Homo sapiens: one gene and its partners. The protein of the gene in region 3 purifies or fractionates together with the protein of the main gene of each other region. This does not show direct contact. Each region holds a gene or a part of one and is shown on either strand. Other genes may lie near its edges.

What was found.
Region 1: the proteins of BLVRA (region 3) and DDHD2 purify together in Homo sapiens (affinity purification with mass spectrometry; 3 studies listed by BioGRID and IntAct, with this or other methods). This does not show direct contact.
Region 2: the proteins of BLVRA (region 3) and TBX20 purify together in Homo sapiens (affinity purification with mass spectrometry; 3 studies listed by BioGRID and IntAct, with this or other methods). This does not show direct contact.
Region 4: the proteins of BLVRA (region 3) and TLN1 purify together in Homo sapiens (affinity purification with mass spectrometry; 3 studies listed by BioGRID and IntAct, with this or other methods). This does not show direct contact.

The regions. Positions count from the first base shown.
Region 1 is NC_000008.11:38,234,566-38,241,588, reverse strand, and holds part of DDHD2 (triacylglycerol hydrolase DDHD2), read right to left. Parts: coding exon 7,005-7,023; intron 4,052-7,004; coding exon 3,962-4,051; intron 3,501-3,961; coding exon 3,380-3,500; coding exon of another isoform or gene 3,318-3,379; exon of another isoform or gene 2,497-3,317; intron 1,315-2,496; coding exon 1,225-1,314; intron 1-1,224. UniProt on the Homo sapiens protein: Diacylglycerol (DAG) and triacylglycerol (TAG) lipase required for proper lipid homeostasis in the central nervous system. It cooperates with PNPLA2/ATGL in neuronal TAG catabolism and hydrolyzes sn-1,3 DAG downstream of PNPLA2/ATGL.
Region 2 is NC_000007.14:35,251,080-35,258,607, forward strand, and holds the start of TBX20 (T-box transcription factor TBX20), read right to left. Parts: upstream 3,022-7,528; 5' UTR 2,542-3,021; coding exon 2,415-2,541; intron 1-2,414. UniProt on the Homo sapiens protein: Acts as a transcriptional activator and repressor required for cardiac development and may have key roles in the maintenance of functional and structural phenotypes in adult heart.
Region 3 is NC_000007.14:43,761,678-43,768,700, reverse strand, and holds part of BLVRA (biliverdin reductase A), read right to left. Parts: intron 6,071-7,023; exon of another isoform or gene 5,927-6,070; intron 4,497-5,926; exon of another isoform or gene 4,396-4,496; intron 1,448-4,395; exon of another isoform or gene 998-1,447; intron 1-997. UniProt on the Homo sapiens protein: Reduces the gamma-methene bridge of the open tetrapyrrole, biliverdin IXalpha, to bilirubin with the concomitant oxidation of a NADH or NADPH cofactor. Does not reduce bilirubin IXbeta.
Region 4 is NC_000009.12:35,701,185-35,708,207, forward strand, and holds part of TLN1 (talin-1), read right to left. Parts: intron 6,709-7,023; coding exon 6,547-6,708; intron 6,305-6,546; coding exon 6,164-6,304; intron 6,070-6,163; coding exon 5,888-6,069; intron 5,717-5,887; coding exon 5,584-5,716; intron 5,368-5,583; coding exon 5,266-5,367; intron 5,183-5,265; coding exon 5,012-5,182; intron 4,928-5,011; coding exon 4,778-4,927; intron 4,668-4,777; coding exon 4,566-4,667; intron 4,487-4,565; coding exon 4,367-4,486; intron 3,632-4,366; coding exon 3,485-3,631; intron 3,315-3,484; coding exon 3,148-3,314; intron 2,991-3,147; coding exon 2,807-2,990; intron 2,717-2,806; coding exon 2,591-2,716; intron 2,493-2,590; coding exon 2,376-2,492; intron 1-2,375. UniProt on the Homo sapiens protein: High molecular weight cytoskeletal protein concentrated at regions of cell-matrix and cell-cell contacts. Involved in connections of major cytoskeletal structures to the plasma membrane.

The DNA of each region.
Region 1 (7,023 bases), on a different chromosome or scaffold from region 3:
ATTAGCCAGGCATGGTGGTGTGCGCCTGTAATCCCAGCTACTCAGGAGGCTGAGGCAGGATAATCACTTGAACCCGGGAGGCAGAAGTTGCAGTGAGCTGAGTTTACACCACTACACTCCAGCCTGGGCAACAGAGCAAAGCTCTTGTCTCAGGAAAGAAAATAATATATTTAAAAACAAAAAAAAAGGAAAAGGAAAAAAAAAGAAAGCTAAACTTCAAAACGTCGGCATCATGAGAACTGTTTCATTTTTTTTTTAATCACATGACAATATAACAACAGTCTTGCAGTTGAATTCCTACCCTAACTTTCTGGTTCTTATAAACAAGCACCACCCAATACTTTAAAGAAAAAAAAATACACTGTTGTTTGAAATTCATATCACATCAGTCTCAACCTTCCACAATACAATTCTAGTTTATGTTTAGAACCATTAGCCAGTTAGAATAAGACACCCTAATTGGAACAATTAAACTTTGAATACTATCAGGTTTTAGAGGACACCTTTTTTTTTTTTTTTTTTTGAGGTCTCACTCTGTTGCCTAGGCTGGAGTGCAGTGGCCCGATCTCGGCTCACTGCAACCTCTGCCCTCCGAGTTTAAGTGATTCTCTTGCCTCAGCCTCCCGAGTAGCTGGGATTACAGGCGCCTGCCACTGCGCCCGGCTAATTTTTGTATTTTTAGTAGAGACAGCGTTTCACAATCTTGGCCAGGCTGGTCTTGAACTCGTGACCTCATGATCCACCTGCCTTGGCCTCCCAAAGTGCTGGGATTACAGGCGTGAGCCACCGCACCCAGCCTAGAGGACACCTTTCAAAATCTAGTTATACTAATGACTTAAATCCTCCAATTACAATATCAAAGGTTTATCACAGTATGAATTACAAAAATGATTGATGCTTCTGTTATTCATTAAACTCTATCATCTTTATGGTTCCCTGTAAATTTGAAATAGTTAGAAATAGGACCACCACATCATAAAACACAATTTTATAGGGATTAACTGCTTGTTCATTTGAGACTATTACAATAGTTAAGAGTATAAACTATTAGACTCAGGAATTTCCTAGCACTTCAGGTCTAAGCTGAGAAGCTTTACTACCTTGCCACCTGTCTTTAACTCTCCAAATCTTCTTATGCAGCTAAGACAATAGACCAAAGACAAGGCTTTATCTCAGCTCACAAGAGCACTGATTAATATTCTCTCACATGCTTTGCAAACCTACCACACTGTACAATGCTTCGAAAGCGGAGATCACAAGCTGGTCCAATCCCATGGACTACAAAAACCAAGTGATCTATTTGTAAAGGTTCTCCTATAAATGAAATTAAAAAGAAAATTATTCTGTATAATTAGTCATGTATTCTAATATCATTCATCATGAAAAGGTTATAAATATGAGCAAGTTAAAAGATGAACAGATAATTTAAAAGATACAAAATAGTCCTTTAAGTACCTAGCAAAAATACACTGATTTTACTTGGTTTCTAATTTATCTTGAAATAAGTCTGTAAAATTTTTTTCAGGACTTTTTTCTTTTTTTTCTGATCTCTGAAAAAGAAAACTCGGCTGGGCGCGGTGGCTCACGGCTGTAATCCCAGCACTTTGGGAGGCCAAGGCAGGTAGATCATGAGGTCAGGAGTTCGAGACCAGCCTGACCAACACGGTGAAACTTCATCTCTACTAAAAATACAAAATTAGCCGGGTGTGGTGGCACATGCCTGTAATCCCAGCTACTCGCGAGGCTGAGGCAGAAGAATCACTTGAACCCTGGAGGTGGCAGAGGTTGCAGTGAGCCGAGATCACACCACTGCACTCCAGCCTGGGTGACAGAGCAAGACTCTGTCTCCAAAAAAAAAAACTCTTTTTTTTTTTTTTTTAAATTATGGTTTTTTTTTTGTTTGTGACAGAGTCTTGCTCTGTCACCCAGGCTGGAGTGCAGTGGCACGATCTTGGCTCACTGCAACCTCTGCCTCCCGGGTTTAAGCGATTCTCCTGCCTCAGCCTCCCGAGTAGTTGGGACTACACGCACACGCCACCACACCTGGCTAATTTTTTGTAGTTTTAGTAGAGACAGGGTGTTTCACCGTGTTAGCCAGAATGGTCTCGACCTCCTGACCCGCCCGCCTCAGCCTCCCAAAGTGCTGGGATTACAGCCGTGAGCCAACACACTTGGCCTTTTTTCAGGTTTTAAAAACTTTTTTTTTTTTTTTTTTGAGACAGAGTCTCACTCTGTCGCCTAGGCTGGAGTGCAGTGGCATGATAAACACTCATTCCAGCCTCAACCTTCTGGGCTCGAGTGATCCTCCTGCCTCAGCCTCCAAAATAGCTGAGACTACAGATGTGTGCTACCATGCCCAGTTAATTTTTGTATTTTTTGTACAGACAGGGTTTCGCCATATTGCCCAGGCTGGTCTCGAACTCCTGGGCTCAAGTGATCCTTCCACCTTGGCCTCCCCAAGTGCTGGGATTACAGGCATGAGCTACCACGTGCAGCCAGGTTTTTAAAACTTTTTATTTCTAAATAACTAGAAATGTACAGAAAACTAGAAAGCATAGTACAGACACTCCCACATACTTTTTACAGAGATTCAACTTTTTAACAATTACATTTGCTTTATGATTCTCTGTGTGTGTACACACACACACACACACATTTATTTTTCTGAATCATTAGAAAGCAGACTACATACATCATCAGGTTGCATGCACCATACCTCTTTAACCCTTTAATACCATAATGTGTATTTCCTAAGTATATTATCTTACATAACCATAATACAGTTATTGAATCCAGGCAACTGAACATTGATAAAATACTTTTATCTAGTATTTCATTTTTATCAATGTTTGGTATGTTTTTAAAGCCTGAAATTTTAAACTCATCTTTTTAAATTACAGTAAAGCTAGGATTTTGTCCAAGAGACAAGAAAAAAGGAATATTATAATCCAATTAAATATATTATAAAACCATAAGTGACCCTACCTAGATAGCAGTGCATAATCAGGTCCTGCTGAAAAACAGTTTTCCTTAGTTGAAAATCTTCAAGGACAAGGAGTTATTACCAGGTATAAATTTCTAGTCAAGTAGGTGGAATCACACTTCTTGGAATTAGGACTAAATCAGTTCATCTGTACTTAGTGACTTCCTGGATAGTATTGCCAAATTTTACCCATCCTACCATATGTTTTAAAAGATATTTTTACATCTATTAAGATTCTTAGTAGACGAAGTGATGCTAATCTCAACTTGGAATAAACCCATATGATTAAAGATGATTTTTAAGCCTTGAGGTAATCTAAATCCACAGAAAAAGGTCACAATTTAAGGAGTAAACAAATACATCCAAAGGTAAGAAAAAATAAACGATTAACATTACCACAATGAATGTCAACAGAGATGTTCTCAACTCCTCTCTTCACAGTTCTTGGTCGACCCTGCTCCGTGGGTGTTGAACCCCAATCATCAGACCCTGCAACTGGCTGGTAATGCACCATAAGCTTAAACAGAACAGATCAGAGCAATAAAAATATTCTGCAATACAATCATCTCTATACAATGCAGTTTTAAGTGTAGAATCATGTCTTTCAAACCACACAGTAAAATCTGAACTGGAGTTTTGATATACAACTCGTATGGCTTGAAATGAGAACCGTGAAAATATATTAGGCTAACAGATCTGTCAATAGTCCCTTTCTACATGGAAGACATGCTCACATAATATGTCAGTGATTTTCTTATTCTACAGTGGCATAATTTTCCATAAGAAAATTATTTTGTATAAGCTGAGTTGGGTAAATAACAGTAGTGGCTACAAGTTTTTAAGTTTCATAACTGTGAATTCAATATAAAATTTGACAAAGGTTATCCTACACAGAGTGCTTAGCAAAAGAAACCAATTGAGTTCTCCCTAATAGCGCAATTAACTTTTTATCCCGACAAGAGAAATGCTTTGTTTTACCTTTGGATTGTGTAAAATAATAATTTCTCTGTTGGGAGATTCCAGTTTCTTTTTCCATTCATCCAAAGTTACAGCAAGCATGTAAGTTTCCTTAAAAGAAAACACATTTCATTAGAGTTCTCTAGTAGCTTTCCTATTAAACTGAACCTATTAACAAGAATACTATGTATTAATGAGTTTCAATAAGAATATCCTACTCCAATTTATCAAATTTATTTTTAAATCTTTTTGTTGTTGTTGTTGTTTGTTTTGTTTTGTTTGTCTTACTCTGTCGCCCAGGCTGGGTTGCAGTGGCACAATCTCGGCTCACTGCAACCTCCGCCCCCCAGGTTCAAGCAGTTCTCTTGCCTCAGTCTCCCAAGTAGCTGGGATTACAGGCACCCGCCACCACATTCGGCTAACTTTTGTAGTTTTAGTAGATACGGGGTTTGGCCATAATGGCTAGGCTGGTCTCAAACTCCTGACCTCAGGTGATCTGCCTGCCTCGGCCTCCCAAAGTGCTGGGATTACAAGCATGAGCCACAGCACCCAGCCTATTTTTAAATTATTTTGAAATTACAACTGATAGTAGCACCAGGACAAAGGGGGAAAAATACTCCTAATTCCATCATCTACGCTAGATAATTAGTGTTCACATTTTAATATATTAATATTAATGTTCTAGACCAGGCGTGGTGGCTCATGCCTGTAATCACAATACTTTGGGAGGCCAAGGCAGGAAGATCACCTGAGGTCTGGCATTCGAGACCAGCCTGGCCAACACGGCAAAACCCCATTTTTACTAAAAATACAAAAATTAGCCAGTGTGAGCCGGGCGCGGTGGCTCACGCCTATAATCCCAGCACTTTGGAAGGCCAAGGCGGGTGGATCACCTGAGGTTGGGAGTTCGAGACCAGCCTGACCAACATGAAGAAATCCCATCCCATCTCTACTACAAATACAAAATTAGCCAGGCATTGTGGCACATGCCTGTAATCCCAGCTACTCGGGAGGCTGAGGCAGGAGAATCGCTTGAACCCAGGAGGCAGAGGTTGCGGTGAGCTGAGATCGCGCCACTACACTACAGCCTGGGAAACAAGAGTGGAACTCCGTCTCAAAAAAAAAAAATTAGCCAGTGTGGTGAGGCACGCTTGTAATCCCAGCTACTTAGGAGGGTGAGGCAGGAAAAGTGCTTGAACCCAGGATGCAGAGGTTGCAGTGAGCCGAGATCGCACCACTGGACTCCAGCCTGGGCAACAGAGTGAGACTCTGTCTCAAAAACAAAAACAAAAACAAAAACAAAAAAAGCAAAAAAAAAAAACCAAAAACAAGAAAAAGGCTGGGCGTGGTGGCTCACGCCTGTAATCCCAGCACTTTGGGAGGCCGAGGCGGGCGGATCACGAGGTCAGGAGCTTGAGACCATCCTGGCTAACACGGTGAAACCCCGTCTCTACTAAAAATACAAAAAATTAGCTGGGCGTGGTGGCGGGCGCCTGTAGTCCCAGCTACTTGGGAGGCTGAGACAGGAGAATGGCAAGAACCCAGGAGGCAGAGCTTGCAATGAGCCAAGATCGTGCCACTGCACTCCAGCCTGGGAAACAGAACGACACTCTTGTTTCAACAACAACAAAAAATACTAACGCTCTACTCCAATTTAAAGAAAAATTTCAGTTTTCAGAGCAAGAAAAATAAAAGCTAAAAAAGATCAATCCTGTGACCATAGCATAATACAGTTTGCATTTGTATTTGTGTGTGTGTGTGTGTGTGTGTGTGTGCGCGTGTACTTTTTTTTGTAGTGGTGGGGTCTTGCTTTGTTGCCCAGGCTGTTCTCAAATTCCTGGGCTCAAGTCATCCTCCTGCCTTGGCCTCACAATGTGCTGGGATTACAGGTGAGAGCCACTGTGCCCACCAGTTTTTTTTTTTTTTTTTGAGATGGAGTTTTGCTCGTTGCCCAGGCTGTAGTTCAATGGTGCGATCTCCACTCACCACAACCTCCACCTCCCGGGTTCAAGCAATTCTCTTGCCTCAGCCTCCCAAGTAGCTGGGATTACAGGCGTGCACCACCGTGCCCAGCTAATTTTGTATTTTTAGTAGAGACGAGGTTTCTCCATGTTGGTCAGGCTGGTCTCAAACTCCCAACCTCAGGTGATCCGCCCACCTCAGCCCCCCAAACTGCTGGGATTACAGGCGTGAGCCACCAGGCCCGGAGTATTTTTTTCTTTTTTTACACCTTAAAACACCACAACCATTTCCATCGTATTTTAAAATCTGAAAAAGGCCAAGCACAGTAGCTCACACCTGTAATCCCAGCACTTTGGGAGGCCGAGGCCAGCAGATCATTTGAGGTCAGGAGTTCGAGACAAGCCTAGCCAACATGGTGAAACCCCATCTCTAATAAAAATCAGTAGGAACAACTCTCCCATTACAATATTTTCCTTTCAAGGATTGAAAAGGGGAAAAGAAGTACATATTTCAAAATAAATCTCCCAACATACAATTCTGAGTTATATTCTAAATAATGTTATGAAACACATGAATGAACAGTTCCTACTTGGCTAAACACCAAACAAAATGGAATCTAATTCATATCTTTTTCACTACCTACTTTACAAACCGTCAAACCATTCCTGATTTTAATGAAACATGAAAAAAAATACTACCCAAACAGTTTTGTTCTTTTTCTGAGGAAAGATAGCAGTGCCCCTTAAAAAAAATTAGCCAGGTGTGGTGGCGGCCACCTGTAATCCCAGCTACTTGGGAGGCTGAGGCATGAGAATCACTTGAACCGGGGAGGTGGAGGTTGCAGTGAGCCAAGATCGCACCACTGCACTCCAGCCTGGGCAACAGAGCGAGACTCCGTCTCAAAAAAAAAAAAAAAATCTGAAAATAAGACTACTTTATCCTGAAACTTGCTTGTAAATAGAAATGCTTTATTATGTTTTATAATGTGATGCAGACAGAACCAAAGTCTTTCTGGAAATTTCACAAAATAAATTACAAAGGAAAGAAAAGATTATTAAATAAGAGAAAGAAAGAATAAGTAAAAAAAGAGTCAAAAGAATACCTCTAAAACTTGGCTGAAG
Region 2 (7,528 bases), 8.5 Mb from region 3:
GCCTATGAACCAAACATTCTCCCCCACAGCTGATAAGGGCCTGGGACTACACCAGTCACTTTGATGGAATACAGGGAGACTTCTGTAATTGTCCCAATTATCTTCCATCCCTTAAAAAAGAAACTACTTGAATTTGCAATGTGAAGTTGATCTCTTAAGTGCCCTCAAGAAATCAAAGCCAGTTCTAAATGTATGTATGTACATGTACATGATGTGTGTGGGCATATGGGACACGCACAGATCATAAGGTGTTTTATTTCCTACACATCCGTACATGAAGAAAACAGGAAACAGAGTGGTTTTACTTTTACTTCTCATGCAATGATAATCCAACCCATGAAAATGTTTTAACTTAAGAATAATCAAATTAAATGCCATCCTGATTTTTTTCAGATTAACGAAAGGAAACCATACCATAACAAAATCTTATTTTCTACTAATATTTTCAGAAACACATTCACATAATGTCTTCGGAGGGAATTAAGAAGTAGTGTTAATGACTTTTTTTTCTGACAACTGAAAGAGGCAAACTCCCTAAGCCCCAGACTGACCAATGCATCAGGATGGGAAGTAGGAGAGGAAGAAAATGAAATAGAAATGCTTCAGCAGACTGAAGCTGTTCCTTTAAATAGACTTTGTATGTTTAAAAGGGCAATCCTGGGACACACTGGAATCCCCCTCCCCACTCTATAGTTTGCTTCAACAAAAGTCCCACATTCTCTCTTAACAGAACTTTTAGGTGTTTCTCTTGATAGAGTCCTTGGCTTGCAGTCACCTCTGTTGAACTGGCCAGTGTAAGCGACAAGAACGCCTGCTAGTTCTTTCAGAGCCCATCTCAAAAGCCAGGAGAGGGACATGCATTTTATACTAGTGCCTATATGTGTGTGTGGGCATGGGGGTAGGGTTGGAGTTGTGAGCTGGGCATGGCTTTAAAGTTCAAGATTTAGAATTTTCGATATAAGGTGGCTTTTCTCAGAAAAATAAAGAGAGAAGGAAGCAATGTTGAAATGACAGTGCAGCTGGGGCTGGCATGTTTCCCAATTTGCTGTCTACACTTCTGTCGGGAATCCTCTTTTCCTGCTATGTAACAAGCTGAGATGTTTACAAAGAATTCAGGGGCCCCTAAACAGCAATGTATAATGTTGAGAAGTCGCACAATATAACTTTGAAATTGTTAGTTATATTTTTCTAAACAATTGGATTTTGTTTGATTGATTGTCTCCATTCTTTGGCAGGTTTAGATTTAGATGGGAGGTGGGTGGGAAGAACCAGGGGAAGGGGGTGAAAACTTAGAGGACAGATTTTTTTTTTTTTTTGACATTCTGTTTTCTACAGATCTACTAGTTTCTTTTTCCTTGGTTTCAAGTAGCTACAGGAATTTTACTTCTCTCATCTTTAAGCCCAAACACCTTATTTTTGATCTCTAACACTTCCTTTTTTTCATGTTATCATTATTTTGGATGTGATATGTTAAGTGTGGGAAGGACAGAGAGAAGAAAGGAAAAATTGGGGAGGGTTAAAAAAGAAAAATTAACTTAAGTTTGCTATCTGATTTTCACATTGTAGTGATACCAGACGATCAGGCTGTGTAACAATTATTTCCTGGGGATCCACGAGGCAATGATGAGAACACTTCTTTTTCCCTCAGTTGTAAAGAGATTCTTAAATATTTATCTTGGGGTGGTTCTTTTCCATGTAATTCACTAGTGTTAAGAAGAACATAATCCCTGTTCTCCCTTTACTCCTAGCCTAGTGTCTTCTATAAATGGTAAAGGTTGTTAAACAAACAACATAACTAAAAGTAGAGGAATTTGAGAAATGGTTACTGGTTAGTGTTTTTGCCAACCTCAACTGAAAATGACGACAGTTATAAAATGATGTCTTGGTGATAAGTCTAGAGCTTCAGTGAATAAAATGGTTCGTGTAGGGAGAACTGGCTTATTCTGCTTTACAGTGGTTTCAAAGAGCTTGCTCTGTTTTGTCTATTCAAGTCAGAGGAAAACCAAAATTAAACTGGTTTCTTATGAAGTCCTTTAGCGTCTCCGTTTCAAACGCACAAGCAGGTGTTACATGCACAGTAAATCCTGTTGAGCCTTAAAAGGGGTTTTATTATTATTTTTCCATGAATGTTTTTAACCCAACAAACATACACACACACCATATGTCTGATCTGATATATGGATTCTAGACAACTTAGGAGACCGACGGGCCCAGATATAAGATGCACATTCACAGCATTCAACAGACTGAAGCCTCCAAAGAAAACTTGGACCCAAAAGAAAAAGATCTCCCACCCGCGATGTATGGCTCATGGCTTGAGCATCAGACGTTGCTGCGAGCCGCCTGCAGCCAGGGGCACAGACGGATGCGCAGCATCCCCAGTCCTCGGCGGACAGCCGGGTAGCCCAACTTACCCAGGGGTTTGATTGTGTTCTCCGTCGCCTCCTTCTCCTTAGAGCCGCCGCTCGACATGAGCGCGGCAATGGAGAAGGCGTTGGCCCGAGAGGAGAGTTGGGGCTTGGGGGACGCCGTGAACTCCATGGTCCCCAGCACGCGGTCCTGGCCAGGGACGGGGTCGTCCGAACTGCCGTCCAGATTCCCCAAGGGAGACAAAGACCCGAAACACAGCTCAAAGTTTCCGAGAGCAGTCACAGCGGGGCCAGGGACTCCAGAAGTGTCAGCTCCAACGACTCCAGAGCTGCACACTGGCCTCTATTCCCCACCGCAAAGCCCCAGAGCCGCAGAGACTTCGAAGGCAGCCGGAGAGGAGAGGGCCCACCGAGCACTACGGCGGGTGCGCACGCCCCGGGGCGCTCGGCAGGACGACAGTCTGCACAGCCCGAAGGCGGAAACGAGCATCAACTGCACAAAGTCCTGGGGTCCTGGAGCATCCCCTCCGCGTCCTTCCTCCCTCTGGGGCTGGGGACAGCCGGGATGTCCCAGGCTGAGGTGGCCACCAGCCGAGCGCGGCTGCTAGGACGCTGGCGTGGGGAGCGCGGCGCGGAACTACGGACAGTGAGCCCTGGCGCTCGCTGCCCTGCGCCTTAATTTGCTGGCGGCGGCGATCCCGGAGGCCCGCAGCCAGTCAGCGCCGTCTCACGTCACCGCTTCCTGATTCCGCCGCCGGGGGCGGGGCCGCGGGCCGGGCGCGGAGGGCGCGCCCAGGGTGCGGCGCCCGCGTGGCCTGTCGCCCCGGCTGTTCGGTACCCCAGCACAGGTTCAGGGAAAAGGGTGCCACCACTAGGCTGACGCAGCAGCCATGGACATCCCCACCTGGTCTCACAGCCCCGGGCGGGAGGGCGGTGCGCGCTGTCGGGAGAGGACACATCACCGCGGCCTAACGCCCGAGATCCGGGCATGGCCCAGTTGGGGAAGCTATGACCAGACCAGTGGAAGCCTCGGGAGTTCTCGCTTTTTCCATTCTTTTTCTTACCTGCGCTCAAAGTTCCAAAAGAAAGTAGGGAAGCGCTCAGTAGAATCCGGCGCCTCTGAGCCGGCGCCAACTGGCCAGGTCCATACTCGGGGCAGATCCCAGGGCTGGGACTCTCATTCGATGGTCCCAAATTTGATCTCTTTGACAGTGGGGCTGAGCAAATGCAGCCCTGAAAAAGATAAGCTTAGCGAGAGCTGCGGGCATTTGGCAAAGGATGCTGCTCTCAGAACCGTGGCTTCTGCTCCTCACCAGTGCGTCTCTAGCCTGGGGCTCCTATTTTCCCTAGAGGGACCCTGGAAAATGGGACGGCTGCCGAAGAGAAGGCGAAGGTCAGGGCGCGGAGCTCTACGGTAACCACGCGACGCGTAGTGGGAGAGTGCGAACCTTATGGTAGCGCCCGGACTAAGCGGACACAGACCCCTCTGGTTTTACAAAGGCGGCTGTGACGAGGACTTCCCACGGCCTTGTTGGAGGGCGTCCTGTTAGCCCTGCTCAGCCTGAATAACTCAAATTCTCCGAATTCGCAGGGTAATCCGCTTCGCTTGGAGCCGTGTAAACTCAGGCTGACATACACACTCAAGCTGTATATGTAAATATTTGTTCTCTTTTCCAGCCAGTCGGTCTGGCTATTAGAAGCCTCTTCGTGGGTCTTAAAATTAAAATAATAATAATAATTTTTAAAACTCCAACTTTTCACTGCACCACCCCCTACTCCTGAAATAAATTTGTGAGGGAAAACGGCAAGTTAAAATAGCTGTCGAAAACGTTTGTGTGAACAAAATGATGACATCTGGAAGAGTCGTGATTTCAGCCTGTCTTGGTCATCGTGTGTCAATAGTTTTTAACAAGGTGCTGGATGAAGGTGACTAAAAAATGCATTCTCATATCACTATCGAAGTTCGAAGTGTCGATTTATAAATGTTTGAGGAAATTCGTAAAACCATAGACTTTGGTGCTGGAAGGAATTTACGCTGTCTTCTAGCCGGTCTCCATGTGCGTTTGAGAGAGAAAAACAGGGCCCGACGTGGCAGAGCGCGCATCTCCCCCCAGTCCACCTCAGCGGCTAGAAGCAGACGGAAGGGCAGGACTCACACTCCGGGCCCCGACCCTCATCAGCCCCTGGCCCTGCAGCTGTGGCTGGGCTGTTAGCTGAAGAGCCAGAGTAGAGTTAACGACGGCTGGCAAGCAGAGGGCTTTCAGATTAAACCGCAGGATGCATCTGAGGATCCGTTTCTATTCTTAAATTTTTTGCTGGTTTTGGACAACCCAGACCCAATCCAGACCCCTTTTTTGGTTATTAAAGTCCCCCGCCCCAACCTGTCTCTCCCCAGACACACCTTCTCAATGTAAGTGACATTTCTTTGTATTGAGTGGAAGGCACACACTGATTCCTTTCCTATATCAAATGCTTAGGATTTGTCCAGAAAGAAAGATTTCCCTCAAGAAGTGGGGATTTTGGAAGGTCGGGGAATGTTATGGTTAGTCTAGACCTTGATATATGCTTCAACAGGGTGTGGCAAACCTTGTTAGCTGAATTTAGTTTTCAAAAACTTGCCGCAAAATTATACTTCATAAAAAAACCCTTTTGATTGTTTTTCTACACAGAGGAAAACAACTGTGTCTTTTCTTAATTACCTCAATGATTTTGACTGGAATATGAATAATATCATGAGAGGAACATTTTCAGAAAATTTGATGAAGCAAGGGAAAAACTGAATTGCCACAAATCTGTTTCCTCCTCCTTTCCAAGTGCCTACGCGGCCTTAGCCCAGCTCTGTGTCTCTTGTGTGCAGGAAACCCCGACTGCGCATCCTACTACAGGTAAAATACTATACAAGAAAAGATGAGTGATCGTTAGGAGGCAGGCGGCAAACGAGAGGTATTGAAAAGGCCACTTTAAACAAATCCGGGTGACCCGTTTGGGGATCTCTAGGCTATGCATCTTGTTGGTGTTGAAACCTCGGCAGTAAAACATATGCTGCAACATTATTATCGGGGGCACACCGTCCCTCCTCCTAGATTTATTGCCTTTGCAAATCAATATGATGCCATAAAAACGGGGAACCGGTTCTGGGCAGAGAGGTGCTGTCGAAGGATGATTCAAAGCCTTCCCAAAGCGGAGAGTGGGGAGTTCTGAGGTCCCTTCAAAACGCCACTGATAGCGCAGGTTAACAGGTAAAACCACCCGGGGGTTGGAACAAAACAAGCACGTTAACACATCTCTCTAGGCCCTTCTCAGGCTGACTGCTGGCAGCGGAAGCTGCTGAAGTCTTAATGTTAACTTTAACACACGCATTAGCCCGGAGACTTTGTGTAGGTTACTAAACCTCTCAAAGCTTCAGTTTCTTCATCTGCGTTAGAATAGGGCCAATAGTTCATTCCTACCTGGAAGATAGCTCTTTGGATTAATGCCCTAATGTGTATAAAAAGCCTAACACTCACAATAAACCCAACATAAGTAAAGCATAATACAGAATTTTAATCATATTTAATTTTGAACTGCAAATTCGCGATTGGAGAAACATGTCTCTCGGGTGCTCATATATAATGTAGATAGTTTTGGAATGTACAAAGAGCATTGGGGCCACAGGAGGGTATTGGATTGTTATTTACATCCCGTTTAAACTTTGGCGCCTAAGAATGTAAAATTTTGTTATACATCTGAGTTTGTTTATATGGAATTTGATTATATGGAAGACTGGAAGATGTCTCCTTATATACACCACTCTTTCAAATTCTCATTTGTAGCTCCCGGAACTCAGAAGACAGTCGACCCCCAAAACTGTCCAGGAAGTAATCGGTTTCCGGCTTTTGGACAATGGTCCCTCGCTTAACGAATGCTAACGAATGCTCCCTTAGCTGGGAGCTGCAGGGACCGGTCCCGGCAGGTCTAACCAACCGTCCGCAGGCGCCGTGGTCGAGAGCAGAGCCGAGACGGCGGGGCAGGGTGCCAAGCGGAGGGCACAGCCTGGCAGCCACCGTTGGCGGCAGGAGAGAATGGGAGAAGGGAGACCCGCTTCTCAGCACAAGGGCATCTGTCTACTCCCGAACATGGCCGGAGATTCCTGTCCACAGCCTCCCTCCAGCTCTTTCTGGTAGACACTTTAAAAGCGACATTAACGGGCTTCGGTGCCTTTGGATTCCTAAATTAGGTTTACGGAAAAGGAAAGACTTCCCAAGAACAGTGAGAAGAGGAACTGCAGCCCCTCCAAGGCCGCTGCGGCGCGTTCCCGGGGCGCGCCGAGAGCAGCGCGCGGCTCCGTGCCCCGTGGGGAGCGCGCGGCGCGGCCTTGGATTTCACCGCGAGTCGGGAGGGCGGGTCTGAGCCTTGCCTCCCAGGATCCTTCCGACGAACACCCCGCGGGTTTTAGTTTATCGAGCCAAAGTGGTCCCGGAGAAGCGCTCCCTCGCAGCCAAGCTGCAAGAAGTGGCCGGGAACCTACAGGCCTCGGGCCGACCCAGGAAGCCTCCGCACCAGAAAGCTCGAGGAGCCCTTACCCAAGTCTTGCTCGAAGGGCAAAGCAAAGAGCCAGCACCCCTGAGTGTCACTGAAGTTCCTGGATGGGGTGTGAGTGCGCGCGTTCCGTCCGAGACCTCAGTCTCGCCCAGCTATAGAGCCGATAAAGGGATGTCTTGTGGGCGTAAGGCGCTTCGCGCCCATCTCCAAGGCCGATGTGGTCAGGAGGTGAGGGGAAATGTCCTTCTGGCAGAAGCCCGCGGTGCTGCGACGTTGACCCGCCTGGCCTCAGGCTCAGGGCGGCGGGCAGCCCAGGGCACATGTAGTTTCAGCAGCCGCGCTACGTGGGCGGGGGACCCCAGGCCACCCCACGTGTCCGCCCTGGGCCTCCTCCGGGTCCCAAGGCGCGGCGCCTCCAGGCCTTGTAGCGTCTTCCCCGGGTCCCCGCGCGCCAGGCCCCGCAGCCTGCTCACAGGACAGCCCTCGGGGCTGCGACCCTCTCGCTCCTCCCCGCGGCCACTCGCTCCCCGTTCATCCCCCACGAGCTCACTACCGCAGGGACCGGCCCTCAGAGCCCCGGGCCTCCTCCCGGCAGTGGAAGAATCAGCGTGCTAACATTGTGTGCAAAACTCGCAGCG
Region 3 (7,023 bases):
AGCTTGCACGTGAGTGATAGTCAGATAACAGAACAGTGACAGAACAGATAACAGATAACAGAACACCCAAATGTGAGGAGGATGAGAACAGATGTGAGCCTCTCTGGGTCAGCTAGTTCATACACATTAACCCTAATCCTCAGAACCCTGGCAAAAAAAAAAGCTAGTATTAATTCCATTTTACAGACGAAGTGCCTGGAGTTCAGGGAGGGTAAAGCACCCTGCTTCACAGCCAAGGCACTGCGGCACTGCCCTGCAATTTCCAGACTTTCTGGTTCTAGACTCAAACCCAGGCTGTGCCAGAGGCCTTGACAGGTCCTGTCTTACATTCACCCAGAGAGCTTCAAGGATAAACAGGAGACCTGGTGTCCAGTCCTGTCAGTCCTGAACTACCCAAGCAACAACGACGGTCAAACGGGTCATAGGCTGTAGGCTGAATGGTTGGACTTCATCTCCAAGGTCTGCTCCAGCTCTAAATTGCTCTCTGGTTCCCAGAAAAGGAAATTCAGGTAACTCTTATAACAGGCAGAATGATACCCTCAGTCATGATCACAGAATGTAAATTCTGATTATAGCAAGAAGGCCTATCTGACTGACAGATCAAAATGTTTGCCAGAGTGTGTTGGTTAAAGTGTGGTCAGGAATACACTCTGATATTATTGGGGGACTACAAGTGGGTAGCATCTCTGTGGAGGGTAGTGCAGCAATAGCTCTTAAAATTCCAATCTGACCTAGCAATTCTACTGCTTCCTATTTCTTTCTCCAGCCCCCAAACTACATTCAGAAGAAACTGCCCTGAGTCCTTTGACCTTGCAGAAATCTCACTACTACTTGCTCTCCCTTTCTTTTTTTTTTGTAATTAACATATCTATTTGTAACTAATTTAACTTTTCCAAATTCTCATTTGCAAATGAGATTCATATAGTTAAAACTGAATATACAAACAACATATTAGGAGGATCAAAATTTACACTACTCAAACATGACTCCTTAAGACTGACTTTAACATGTTCTTTCAATTTTATTCAAATCAGATGTCCCCCCTCCAGCATTTATCATTTTAAAAAATGAATTTAATGCTATCAAAAGGTGATGTTCACTTTAATCCTGTTTGCCTTCATGTCACTGTCATGAGCCTTCATTCCAGACCACATACATAAAGAGGGCCAGCACCACATGGCCGGTGACCACGGCAACAATAGCAGCATAAAAACAGCTGTCCTTATTGGATATCCCAAGGGCGCCTCCAGATATATAAGATTTAGTTGTGAAATATAAATAACCCGATAGGAACAGTGATCATTAAAGCTGTGAAGAACAGGAGCGTCTTCAGTGTAGATGCTAATGAGCTTTCTTTTCCGAACTTAGGAGGCTGCAGTGCGTTCAGCGCCACTTTATCTGGGTGCTCCACAGTGTAGTTGTGCTGGCACAGGTGCTCGGTGGCAGGCTACTTGCTTTTCTTTTCTAATGAGATCTTAGAGGAAAGTTTTCCTATAAAAGTGGCCTACAGAACATTACTTATGAACTTTATTGTTTTCCTACATAATCTGGGGAAAGCAAAACAAAAGAAAACAAACAAACGAAAGGATGTGGAGAGATGCATATGCACGAGAAAGAAGCCTAAATGGAACTCGTACACTGGGCATCAGGGGTGTACCACCTAGAATAAGTGGCATTGCTGTTTATTTGTTTATTTTTCAGGGTCAGGGTTTTGTTCTTTAACACAGACTGGAATGCAGTGGCACGCATGATCACAGCTCACTGCAACGTCGAACTCCTGGGTTCAAGTGATCCTCCTGCCTCGGCCTCCCAAAGTTCTGAGACTGCAGGCATGAGCCACTGCACCTGGCCACATTGCTGTTTTTAAAGCACATTCAGCTGGGGTACCCCAGCTAGTTGCTCACAGAGCTGTGAGTGACTGGCAGGACCTGCCATGGTCACATAACTGTAACGGCCAGACAGATCCTTTCTGTGCTGTTTCCCCTTCTGCTTTCAACTCCCCCTTACGATAAGATGCACCGTCAGGAGAGGCAGCAATCCCAGGCCAAGCGAGATCTGGCTCCACCTTCCAACTCTCTGCCTGCCCATCACACAGCTCCCTCTCCTTTCCTCCCCATTGTCTGGCCAGGACTAGTTAAACTCTGAACAGAATCAAGGAGGAACTTTATTCTGTATTTTAATATATCTTAAAATATCTAAGACCTAATCCTGTAACAAAAAGGTTTTGGTTTGTTTAGTTTTCCTTTTTTTATTTAAATTTCAAAGGTGTACTATTTAAATGGTCAAACACAAAAACATTCTATTTTCTAACTTTTAGTATTATGCTGAGAAATATTTTCCCAAAAGACTTATATTAAATAGATACATTTTTATTTTCTTTTAGATTTTTAACTTTTTTTTTTTTTTTTTTCCCTGAGACAGAGTTTCACTCTTGTCACTCAGGCTGGAGTGCAATGGTGGGATCTCGGCTCACTGCAACCTCTGCCTCCCAGGTTCAAGCCATTCTCCCACCTCAGCCTCCTGAGTAGCTGGGATTACAGGCGCCTACCACCACACCACCACGCTAATTATTTTTAGTAGAAATGGGGTTTCGCCATGTTGGCCAGGCTGGTCTGGAACTCCTCACCTCAGGTGATCCACCCACCTCGGCCTCCCAAAATGCTGGGATTACAGGCATGAGCTACCACGCCTTGCCTTAACTTTTCTTTATTTACATTTTTATTTTTTAATCAAATCTAAATAGTATTTTGGTATATGGCATGAGATAAGGCTCTAAATTTACATTTCTCCAAATAGTTGAGTTGTTTCTACATTATCGAATATTTAATCCTTTCCCCCAGTGACTCCACATTTAAATTTTTATGAATACAGTTATTCTTTTTTTCACTTTTTTCTGCTGTATCACAGACCTCTATTCCCATGGTTATAACATACTGTTTACATGATTGTGGCTTTACAGTGTTTCAATACCTGGTAATTCAAGTTCTCTCATTAATTTTAGAACATCTTACCAAGTTAAAAAATTCCACTGGGACTGTGACTATGATTGCATCAAATTTATACATTAAATTAGGGTGAATTAATAAGCCTTCCCATCCAGAAACATGGTATGCCTTTCTAAGAGCAGCCAATTTAAAAATAAATAAATAGGCCGGGTGTGGAGGCTCACGGCTGTAATCCTAGCACTTTGGGAGGCCGAGGCGGGCGGATCACTTGAGGCCAGGAGTTCAAGACGAGCCTGGCCAACATGGTGAAACCGTGTCTCTACTAAAATTACAAAAATTAGCAGGGGGTGGTGGCACGAGCCTGTAATACCAGCTATTCGGGAGGCTGAGACATGAGAATTGCTTGAACCCAGGAGGCAGAGGTTGCAGTGAGCCGAGATCACACCACTGCACTCCAGCTTGGGCAACAGAGCAAGACTCTGTCTCTAAATAAACAAATAATTTAAAAAGAAGAATCTTGAGTTAGTTCCTGAATTATTGCATAATGACAAATAACAGCTCAGGCTGCAGTGACTCACTAGAAAGTTGAAAGAAAAAAGTCAACACCTTTGCAGAAACAACTTGCTTGAAGCAATTTAAAGCAGGTTTCTCCTCCCCCCGTATCTACTGCAGCCGGTCTGCAAAACAGTCTTGGAGTTTGAGCCTTTATTTGCTTTGACTCCGAAACACAACGGGCTCAGGTGCACACAGATGAGCTATCTCTCTAGAGGGATGAAGAGCCAGCCTGTGACCCCAGAGAACAGAGTTCTAGACCTGGCTTGGCACCCACTAGCTATGTGATCAAGAGCAGGACACGGGGTCCCTTGTGCCTTAGTTTCTGCACCTTGAAATAGAAGAGGGGGCAGATGAACTTAGATGACCCTTATGTTCTCTTTCTGTGCTAACATATCACTTTAACCCACTTTACTTCTTTTTTTTGCGGGGGGTGGGGGGTTCTCTTTCGGTTTAACTTTCTTGGTGTCTGGCTTGGTTAACTGAAGGTTTTTAGCTTCTCTTCTGGCTCCGCAAGCAAACTAGGTTGAGGCTCAGGTTGCAGCCATCAAGTTCCCAGGCACAAAGGTTCTGTACAGATAGGGCTTTTCCTTGGTACTCTGCCAAAGAGAAGCCACTCTCTTCCCCACCCCACTTTCCAGCCCCTATCTGCTCTATGTCCCTCCTCTACCTCCTCCTCACCACTTCAAAAGCTTCTACCTTTTACTGAAAGTGATCTTAATATAACAGGAGAGAAATGAGATGAGGTCAATTACTTTCACTAAAGTCTAGTGTATTTAAACTTGGAAGGGCATAATCACGTTTGAAAAGAGCTGCTTATTAACTCAAATAATTGTAGAACAATGTGTAACTCTATTTCAAAATAGGGTTGAGAGCAGAACTTTCTGGAGTCCCATACCTGTTCTTGGGCACTGACCACTCCCAGAAGGTCCAGATCATAACTATGTTCCCTTAGTGCTGAAAGATGATTTCTGCCCAGCCGAGTGCTACAGGAACTGCGTACACAGGCACAACTCACAAGTGCGGGGGCGGGGCGGGCAGGGGAAGGAATGCAAATCTTCCACACGCCAGAATATGTGTGGGTCTAACTTTTGTTTCTAACATTTTAAAAGCTCAATAATTATGCTTTCAAAGATCTCTAGAGAGAACATCTTTCTTCAGCAGATCGAGATTTTTTACAAGCAAGATTTCACAACGTGTTATCTGCATCCTCAATATTAATTACATAAATAATTTTATTCTCTACACTGACTATATCATGTTCTTTCACTGTTTTGTTTTCCTTTAGATTTTTTAAGGCGCTCCAAGTTCTCAGATTTCAGGTGAGGAACTTCAAGGCCTTTTCAAAGTCTGAGGTTTTCTGAGTTTGTAAAAGAGAAACGGCTAAGTTACAAGAAAAATCATTACGTATAAATTTGACTTATATAAAATATTCAACTATTCACTCAGGCATCAGCAAATATTTGTTTTAGCACAACAAACAGCACACATGAGTTGAAATATGGTGGACAGAAAACAAACCTAAAGAAATCCTGTAGCACCTAAAAAGAGAATGACACGACATTACTTCATGAAACAGAGCCAGGGGTCAAAAGCAGTAGTGGCCCACGGGTGCGCAGTATGTGCTTTGTTTTTCAAAAACATTTTTTGCCTATTTCCTTTTATTCCCACAATATCCCTAAGAAGTAGAGCGCCCCCCGTGCCCCAACCTTCATTCTGCAGAGGCAGAAAGACATTGGATCCCTTGCTGATGGTGGTCCCTGGTGGTCCCTCCTCAGCAGGCAGGCTGACTGTACTCTTAGCATCCAGCTGGGTTTAGCCAGTGGAGGAGATCGGCAGGCAAGAAACAGAAAGAGAGAGGCTAGGGTACTTGTGCTCCCCCTGCCTGGTTCCTCAGGCTGCTGCTCTGGCAGTGGCTGCATTCTGTGATGGCCACAGCAGGTCTGGAAGGGAGTGGCTCCTCCAGCAGTATTCCAGCCCCCTCCTCCCAGCTCTGGTCCCCTCCCTACCCCTTCAAACCAGAGAGGGGATGGTGCCCACTGAAGCTCTTCCCTGTGTGCCTCACCATCACTTGTTGGCTCCTCCAATCCTGCCCACTCTTCTATAAAAAGTCTCCTTAAAATTCCTTTCATTTTTATGCTTTTCACTGTTGGGATTCCCAACTGATAAACTTGGCAGTATATCAGTTTGCAGCATCCCTGGCCTTTCCCCACTAGATGCCAGTGGCACATACCGTTTTCCCCCCAGCACGACAATCAGAAATGTCAGTAACAACTACTGGGTTAAGGGCCGGGCACGGTGGCTCATGCCTGTAATCCCAGCACTTTGGGAGGCCGAGGCGGGCATGGGGCTGATCATGAGGTCAAGAGATCGAGACCATCCTGGCCAACATGGTGAAACCCCATGTCTACTAAAAATACAAAAATTACCTGGGTATGGTGGCGTGCACCTGTAGTCCCAGCTACTCGGGAGGCTGAGGCAGGAGAATTGCTCGAACCTGGGAGGCGGAGGTTGCAATGAGCCGAGACCGTCCCACTGCACTCCAGCCTGGGTGACAGAGCAAGACTCCATCTTAAAAAAAAAAAAAAAAAAAAAAAGGAACTACTGGGTTCATGGAAATCACTAAATTATTGCTGACAAAGCTCTAGAGTTTCACATTCCAATTTGCACGTGGGAGAGATGCAAAATCTCACAGTAAATTAATAGCACAGCCAGGACTAAACAGCTTCCTTGGCTTACATTATGTTTCCCTTTTGATTTCAGTCTCTTTCCCACATGCAAATTGGAATCTGAAACTCCAGAGCTTTGTCAGCAATAAATTAGTGATTTTCATTAACCCAGTATTTCTCACCAACATTTCTGATTGTTGTACTCGGGGGGAAAAGGGTATGTGCCATTGGCATCTAGTAGGGAAAGGCCAGGGATGCTGCAAAACATCCTGTGATGCACAGGACACCTTCCTACCCCAACTACACATACACAAAGAATTATCCAGCCCAAAATGTCAACAGTGCCAGAGTTGAAAAAGCCTGGATTACACATCATGCAGAATGAACTACAGCTGTGACCTTCCTCCTTGTTCCTCCTCAAACGCCCTCTCAAGTATCTATTATTGCCCCAAAGCCAGGTGACTCACAGAAGTATGGGGAAGGATTAGGGAGAGGGTGACCCTCTCAGGTGGGGCCAGCTGCCAGCCTCAGAGGTCTAAGGGTAAAGGTAAAAGCAACTCTTGCCCTGGAGGGAGTTGGATACTTTGGGATCTATTGAGAAAAATATAATAGCTACATGGGACACAAGTCTGGAAATATATACATCAAAATATTACCAGTAATTATGTCTCTAAGTGGTGAAACTTTTAGTGACTACTTTCTTTTTGCTTCTCTGTACACTTTAAACTTTTCTATAAAGATTAGTTAACATAATTATTCAAAACTCTAAAAAACATTACAAACTATGCCACTTTCACTGACTGCATCCCTCCTAGCCCCAAACTGAACAGACTTTCACAGGGCAATAACATATCAAG
Region 4 (7,023 bases), on a different chromosome or scaffold from region 3:
GATGGTGCAGGGGGATGGGGCACAGAAAGGAAGAGAGTAGGATGAGACTGGAGAAGCAAGCAGAGCCATCACTAATGGGTTTTAAGTAGTGAAGTGACATAATCTAATATATATATATTTCTTGCTCTGTCACCCAGGCTGGAGTGCACTGGAGTGATCATAGTTCACTGCAGACTTGAACCCCTGGGCTCAAGGGATCCTCCTGCCTTCAGACTCATGAGTAACTGGGACAGGCATGGGCCACCTTGCCCAGCTAATCTTTAAATTTTTTGTAGAGACAGGATCTTGCTATGTTGTCCAGACTAGTCTTGAACTCACTCAAGTGATCCTCCCATCTCAGTCTTCCAAAGCGCTGGGATTTTACAGGCATCAGCCAGCATGTCCAGACTCTAATTTATATTTTAAAAACATAATTTTAGCTACTGTGTACAAAGGAGGATTGGAGGGGGCAAGTGTTGAAGCATGGTGACTGGATAGAGACTACTGCATAAATCCAGTTAAGGACTGATGATGGTTTGGACAGTGTGGTAGTGGTAGGAGATAAAAAGAAAAAATGAGCTGTATTTGGAAGGGGCACTAGCAAAACTTAGATGTGGGGAATGAGAGAAAGAGAGAAGTCTAATATATTGAAGCTAGGTTTCTGGCTTTAGGAACTGAGTTACTAAGAGGTGCCATTTACTGAGATGGGGGAAGACCAGGAAAGGACCAGGTATGGGAGGCAGAAAGTCAAGAGTTCCAACTTGGACATCTTCAAGTAAAAGTGAAAACAGAACCTTAGAAAGATGCATTTAGAAATTAGAAAGATGAGTAGGGAGAGAGGAGAGTGGCAGGGACCAGAAGCAGGGAGACCAGGGAGAAAACTGGTGCCACAGCCAAATTGCGGGAGAGTATGGAAGTGTGAACCAGAGTGCGGACAGGGAACCAGGGAGGAGGAATGAAAGGACGTGGCAACAGCCTGGATATGGTGGCTAAGATGGTGAAGTCAAAGATGACTGAGGTGGAATCTTCATGACTGCAAGGGTGTTCCCACCATTAGGAGGACCATGTCATGGTTCGGAGGCACTGCATCTAGGTGGTGATGTCAAACAGGCAGTTGAAAATAACTCAACTCAGAACTGGATGTCTGCTTCTTACAGAATAATAATGAAAGTGGTTAAACTTGCCAAAGAAGAGAAGAGAGAAGGAAGACTATTTGTACAACCCTGGGAAGGCCTCCACATTTACTAAGTTAAAGGTGATTCAATGACGTTCGAGAAACAAGAGAAAAGCCAGTATCTAGGCCAAGGGAAGAAAGAATTTCATTTTTTTTCTTTTTTGTTTTTTTTTGAGATGGAGTCTCACTCTGTTGCCCAGGCTGGAGTGCAGTGGCGCCATCTTGGCTCACTGCAACCTCTGCCTCCCGGGTTCCAGCGATTCTCCTGCCTTAGCCTCCCAAGCAGCTGGGACTACAGGCGCGTGCCACCACGCCCAGCTAATTTTTGTATTTTTAGTAGAGACGGGGTTTCACCATATTGGCCAGGCTGGTCTCGAACTCCCGACCTTGTGATCCACCCGCCTCAGCCTCCCAAAGTGCTGGGATTACACCCGCTGGCCTCCCAAAGTGCTGGCGTGAGCCACCATGCCCAGCAGAAGAAAGAATTTCAAAGAGAGGCTTGTTAACACAGTCAGATGCTTTCGAAATATTCAAAGAGGATGAAGGCCAAGAAGTGGCCACTGAATGTAGCAACTAAGAAGAGGCCACTAGTGACTGGAGAAAGTGGGAGGGTGGTGAAAAAATACAGTTGTCACATGCTAAGGAATAAACAAGTGGGTAGGGGACAGACATGAATGTAGCTCACTGGCACAGTGGCTCATGAGTGTAATCCCAGCACTTTGGGAGGCCAAGGCGGGTGGATCACTTGAGGCCAGGAGTTCGAGACCAGCCTGGTCAACATGGTGAAACCCCATCTCTACTAAAAATACAAAAACTAGCCAGCATGGTATGCACCTGTATTCCCAGTGACTCAGGAGGCTGAGGCATGAGAAGCACTTGAACCTGGGAGGTGGAGGTTGTAGTGAGCTGAGATCACGCCACTGCACTCCAGAAGGAGGGTGTGGGAGAGCTGGGGTAGGGGAAGTCACATGGTGACTGAGGAAGATGCCATGTGAAATGGAAAGGTCACCCACACCTGGGAGAAATGACAAGAGGAGAGGGCTGAGAAGGCTGGAGGAGGATGGCTACAGAGCAAGACCCTTCTCAAAAAAAAAGTCTGGCGATAGATGAGAGAGAAGACTGTGTGTGACTCCAGCTGTGAGTATATGTGTGGCACAGGTTCACAGGCTTTCAGGATCCCTCTCTCTGACCCTAGTCACTGATGCCCCAGACTCTCACTCACCGCCAGCTCCTGCCGTATGTGTTCTGTGGTTGCCTCCAGGGCCCGAGTGCCTTTGGTGGCCTCATCTTCCACGGCTTTTACTGTCTTAAGCAATGATGTCACATTGGTCACCATCACCTGGAGGTATCAGAGGAGTGAAGAGGAATGATTTTAAGGAACAGGAGGAAGTATGTTAATCCAGTGCCCCTCCTGATGTTGCTCTCATTCTCTCCAACCTTGGCAGAGTTCTTTAGCTGCCACACAGCAGGGTCATCTCCAACTTTGCCAGCTGCAGCCTTCGTTGCACTGATGAGGTCTCCCAGGGCTTTGGCTACATCTTTCACTGCGTTGATTAGTACCACCTGTGTGGGAAAGCGTTGGCTCTGGTCTATGGGAGGAAGAAGCGGGACAGGAAGTGATTCCAGCCGGAATTAGGGGCATCAGGTCACTACCTGGGTCTCAGGGTCCTCAGCTCCCAGGCTGGCTGCACCCAGCTTGACCACATCAGCGAGGCGGGTGATGGTCGCCACGGAGGACTGGGCAGCCTGCGCCAACTTCTCCTGGCTCCCAGCTGCGTTTTGCACCAGGACCTTGGTGTCCTCCACCAGCACCTTCGCAGTCTTCAGGATGCCCTCCCTGAGGGAGGGCCCAGCTTAGTCAGATCTCCCCTACCCGCTCCAGCCCGTCCAAGGTGCCTGGTCCAGGTCTTCCCCATTCCAGCGAATGCTATCCTGCCTCTTCCAGCCCCGTGCCCCGACCTGTCTGCCTCCCTTAGGCCCAGTTCCTGTCTTACCGGTGGTCAGCGAAAGTTTCAGTACCCTCACGATTGAGCGTGCCAGCAGTGGCGAACATGATGGTGGTGTCGAGGTCAGCAATGATACCAGACACAGCGCTGGCTGCTGTGATGCAGGCCTGGGTGCCACGATTCCCAGCCTGGAGCGCAGCCAGGACGTGGGAGACCTGGGTAGGGAATGTCACATGGTGACTGTGGAAGGTGCCATGTGAAATGGAAAGGTTGCCCATGCCTGGGAGAAGTGACAACAGGAGAGGGCTGAGAGGGCTGGAGGAGGATGGCAAAGGCTACAGAGTTTGGAGGCAGTCCCACCATCTGCAGGGATGAGCACCGTCACCTTCTCAGAGACTCTCCGGGCACACTCTATGAGCTCCTTCTTGGTGTAGGCATCACTGGGGCTGCACTGCAGGGCGCCTGCCTTGGTGACCAGAGCGGCACAGCCATGGCCCAGCTCCTGTACCCGGTGTTTGATATGGGAACCTATCTGTGAGCCAAGGGAAAGACAGATGGATTTTACAAGGGGCACTCAGGGTACCTTCACTGTGCTTGGAAAAGTCACTAAGGACATAGAAAAAAACATGCATTGTAGACTAAAGAAGCAGAGAGAGAAGGTTCCCAGCACAAGGACGTTTCCGGTTGCATATCCTTTAGGCAGAAGGTCACCTCCTACACACAGAAAATAGTAGCACGCAGGCACTAAGTGGTGAGGATTGTGTTAAGCACAGTGGGGAGAAGGGGAGGAGCACTTTATGCTTGAATGTGGGAATCAGAGGGCCGTGGATTACCATGTGGCCTGTATGGGGTTATGGAGGGTTTTAAGGATGGGCATTACATGTGTCCTGCTAAGATCCAATTACTTGCTTTCTTGGAAAGCTAGAGGCTTAGGTAAGGAAGAGCTTCATGAGTTTGCAACAAGAAAGAACAAGAACATGGACTGGCAGCACAACAGAGAAGCAGCTGTAGGCCCAGATGAGGGTCGGCAGAAGCCAGAAAGGCAGGCCCGGGAAGGCTCCAGATTCTGAGCTGTTTCCTTTGTACCTGTGACTGAAGGCTTTGATCCTCTGTCCCTACCCAGAGCCTCACTAGTCTTCAGCAGAGTGGCCCTGAGGCTGTTCCCCTTTCTATGAAAGACCAGAGAGGGTGGGGGTGGGACAGCCCTAGACACTGACACATCAGGAACAAGGGGCAGGGGGCAGGGCAGAGTTGCCTCCACGTTTACCTCTTCATTTTCAGCAGCCACCGCTGCAGGCTTGGCCTCCGAGGCCAGACGGCCATAGTCACTGGTCAGCTGGTTAGCAAGAGGGCCCAGCTCCTCTGGGCTGGTGTTTGACTTGGTAACCTGGTGATAATGGAACGAGTGAAGTTATATCCAAAGTCAGCTCTCCGAGGGCAGTCCTCTGGGACTCGCCCAAACTCACCATCTCCTGAACGGTCACTGCAATGGCCTTGGCTGTCCGCACCATAGTTGTTTGGTAATCCACGAAGGAACCTTCTGGTTCACCCATTGGTCCTTCATCTAGCTGAGGGGGGAGGATAGGGAAAGGGAAAGACTGTTAGGGTCTCTGCCACTGTGCTTGGAGGCTCTGGCCCAGGGTAGCCTCAGTGTCCAAAGGCACCCCAAGACTCTAACCTGGTTGATGGCCTGGGTGATGGAGTCCACCATGCCACCCACGACCCCAGCAGCACTGGCTGCCTCGTTGAGGGTTGTTGTCAGGTCCTCTACGGCCTCGGTCATCATCTGCACAGCCTCCTCCAGGGCTTCCTGGGTGTGAGCTGCTTGCTGTGGGGAGAGGAGAGGAGCTCTGTTGTTCCTGTTTCTCCAGCCTCCTGCTAGTAACAGCTCCTCCCTCCCAACCCTCAATACCTTTGGGTTACCACCAGCCTCCTTGGCAGTGTATAGCAACTGCAGGGCAGACTCTGCCAATGTTTTAGTCTGGTCCAGGAGTGCCATCTGCTGCGGGTGGCTCAGGGTCTTGGAGGCAGCACCCACTGCAGCCAGGGTGAGCGGCTCAAAGTACTGCGCCATCTGGGACACCTGAGGCAAGGGGTTGGACTAGGGGTCAGGTCCCCTCTCTCTCACCCTACTCCCTGGGACTTCCCATGAGTCTCCATAGGTACCTTGTGTCCCAGCTGGGAGGCTTCAGCCCGGGCAGCATTGGCCAGCGGCTCAATGAGATGGGAGATCTCTTGGACTGCAGTGAGCATCTGAGTGTGCAAGGCCTGGGGAGGAAGTGGACATTAGCCCTGATGGTGACCTGCAATAGGACCCTCTGGCTACAAAGAACTGCTCTTCTGTCCATACCAAATACCCTAACCCTCCTTCGCACATCCCAGCCTTTGATGTCCCTAAGAAGCCACTCCTTGATCCCCCAGCTTCTTTGAGTCTGATATTTCTCTTCCTAGACACATCTTTCCATATAACCCTCTCCCTCTCACCTCTTGAGAGATTCCCTCACGGGGAGCAAGCTGCTGGCTGACTGCAGCGAGGGAAGCCTGGTCTAGGTCCCGTAGACAACTGTTCAGAGCTGCAATGGCCGTTTCACACTCCAGCTGCCCTGGAGCCTTGTCCCTGCAGACACATCATGGGCTCCAACACCAAGAACATCCCCTACTGCAAGGCCAGCCTATCCTTCCCCTGTATCCTCCCAACACCATCCCATCTCATTGCACTCAAGTGCCCATCCTCCATTCTGCCACAATGTATGCCCCCCAGCCACACTGGTTCCCCATCCCTCAATACCTCATGCTTGTAATTAGCTTCTTGATGGAGTCTGAGACAGTACGGGAGTGGCCGGCCAGCACCGACCAGCTCGGGGGGTCCCGGGGATTGACTGCGAGGGCCCGGGCTGTCTGGATGAGTCCCCCGGCACTCTCTAACATTGTCTTGGCAGAGATCACAATGGGCTCCATGGCAGCCCGACCCTGGGGAGAGGGGAGGCAGGAAGGTAAGTCTCAGGAGTCCCTGGAAGATGAGGTGATAAGCTGGCCCATCAGTTCCCCCTTCACATCGCCTCACCTCAGGGCTGATCTGGGCAGGAATGCTGGAGAACTCAGGGTTGGACGCAAAGGCACTCAGATTGTCCACAGCCTCCAGCAGAGGGGCTGTTGCTGCTCGGCACTGGGCACGGTTCTCCTCTGTGAAGGCCCCATCTAGCGCCTAGAAGTGACAGAGAGGCTCTCAGGACTTGGGATGCAGTCATAGGGGGTATAGGAAGTGAAGTCCAGGTCTCCTTCCTGGGACTTACAGGATTTGGGGAGAGGCTAGGTGGTCAGTCTGAATAGAAAGAGCTTGGGCTCAGGCAGAGGGGATTTGGTAGAAGGCTTCAGAGAATAACTGGGGGACTCGGGGGAGAAGATAGGACAGGTCAGGGAGAGGCTGGGAATTCAAGCAATGGGAACCTTGATGGTCTTGACAAGATTAGCTGTGCTGTTGGCCACCTCCTTGGCTGACTGTACAAACTGGCGCTTGGCAGTAGGATTGGTGGTACGGGCAGAAGCCAGGCGACAGCTGTTACACAGTGCAGAGGTGTGTTTAGCCACAATGGTGGCTGCAGAGAGCACCTGAGGAGACACATGGAAGAGCCACGATGAGGGCAGGAAGGAGGTGTACATACCCAAGGAGGAGCCATTTTAGGGTCAGGGGATGGAGAGCAATACCCTGAGGAGTCAAAACAGGAATAACAGAGTCACCTGAAAAGTCAAGATCTAGGAGACAGAGATACCCAAAGATGAACTGGGCATGGGAGAGGAAAGACATACTAATGGAGAAACCATAAGAGGGCATGTGGGAGAGTAAGCTCGAACATCTACAGAGAAGTTGTGAATTTAGCAGTAACTGATAAATGATGAGACCCATGGCAGAAAAAGACAGTTACC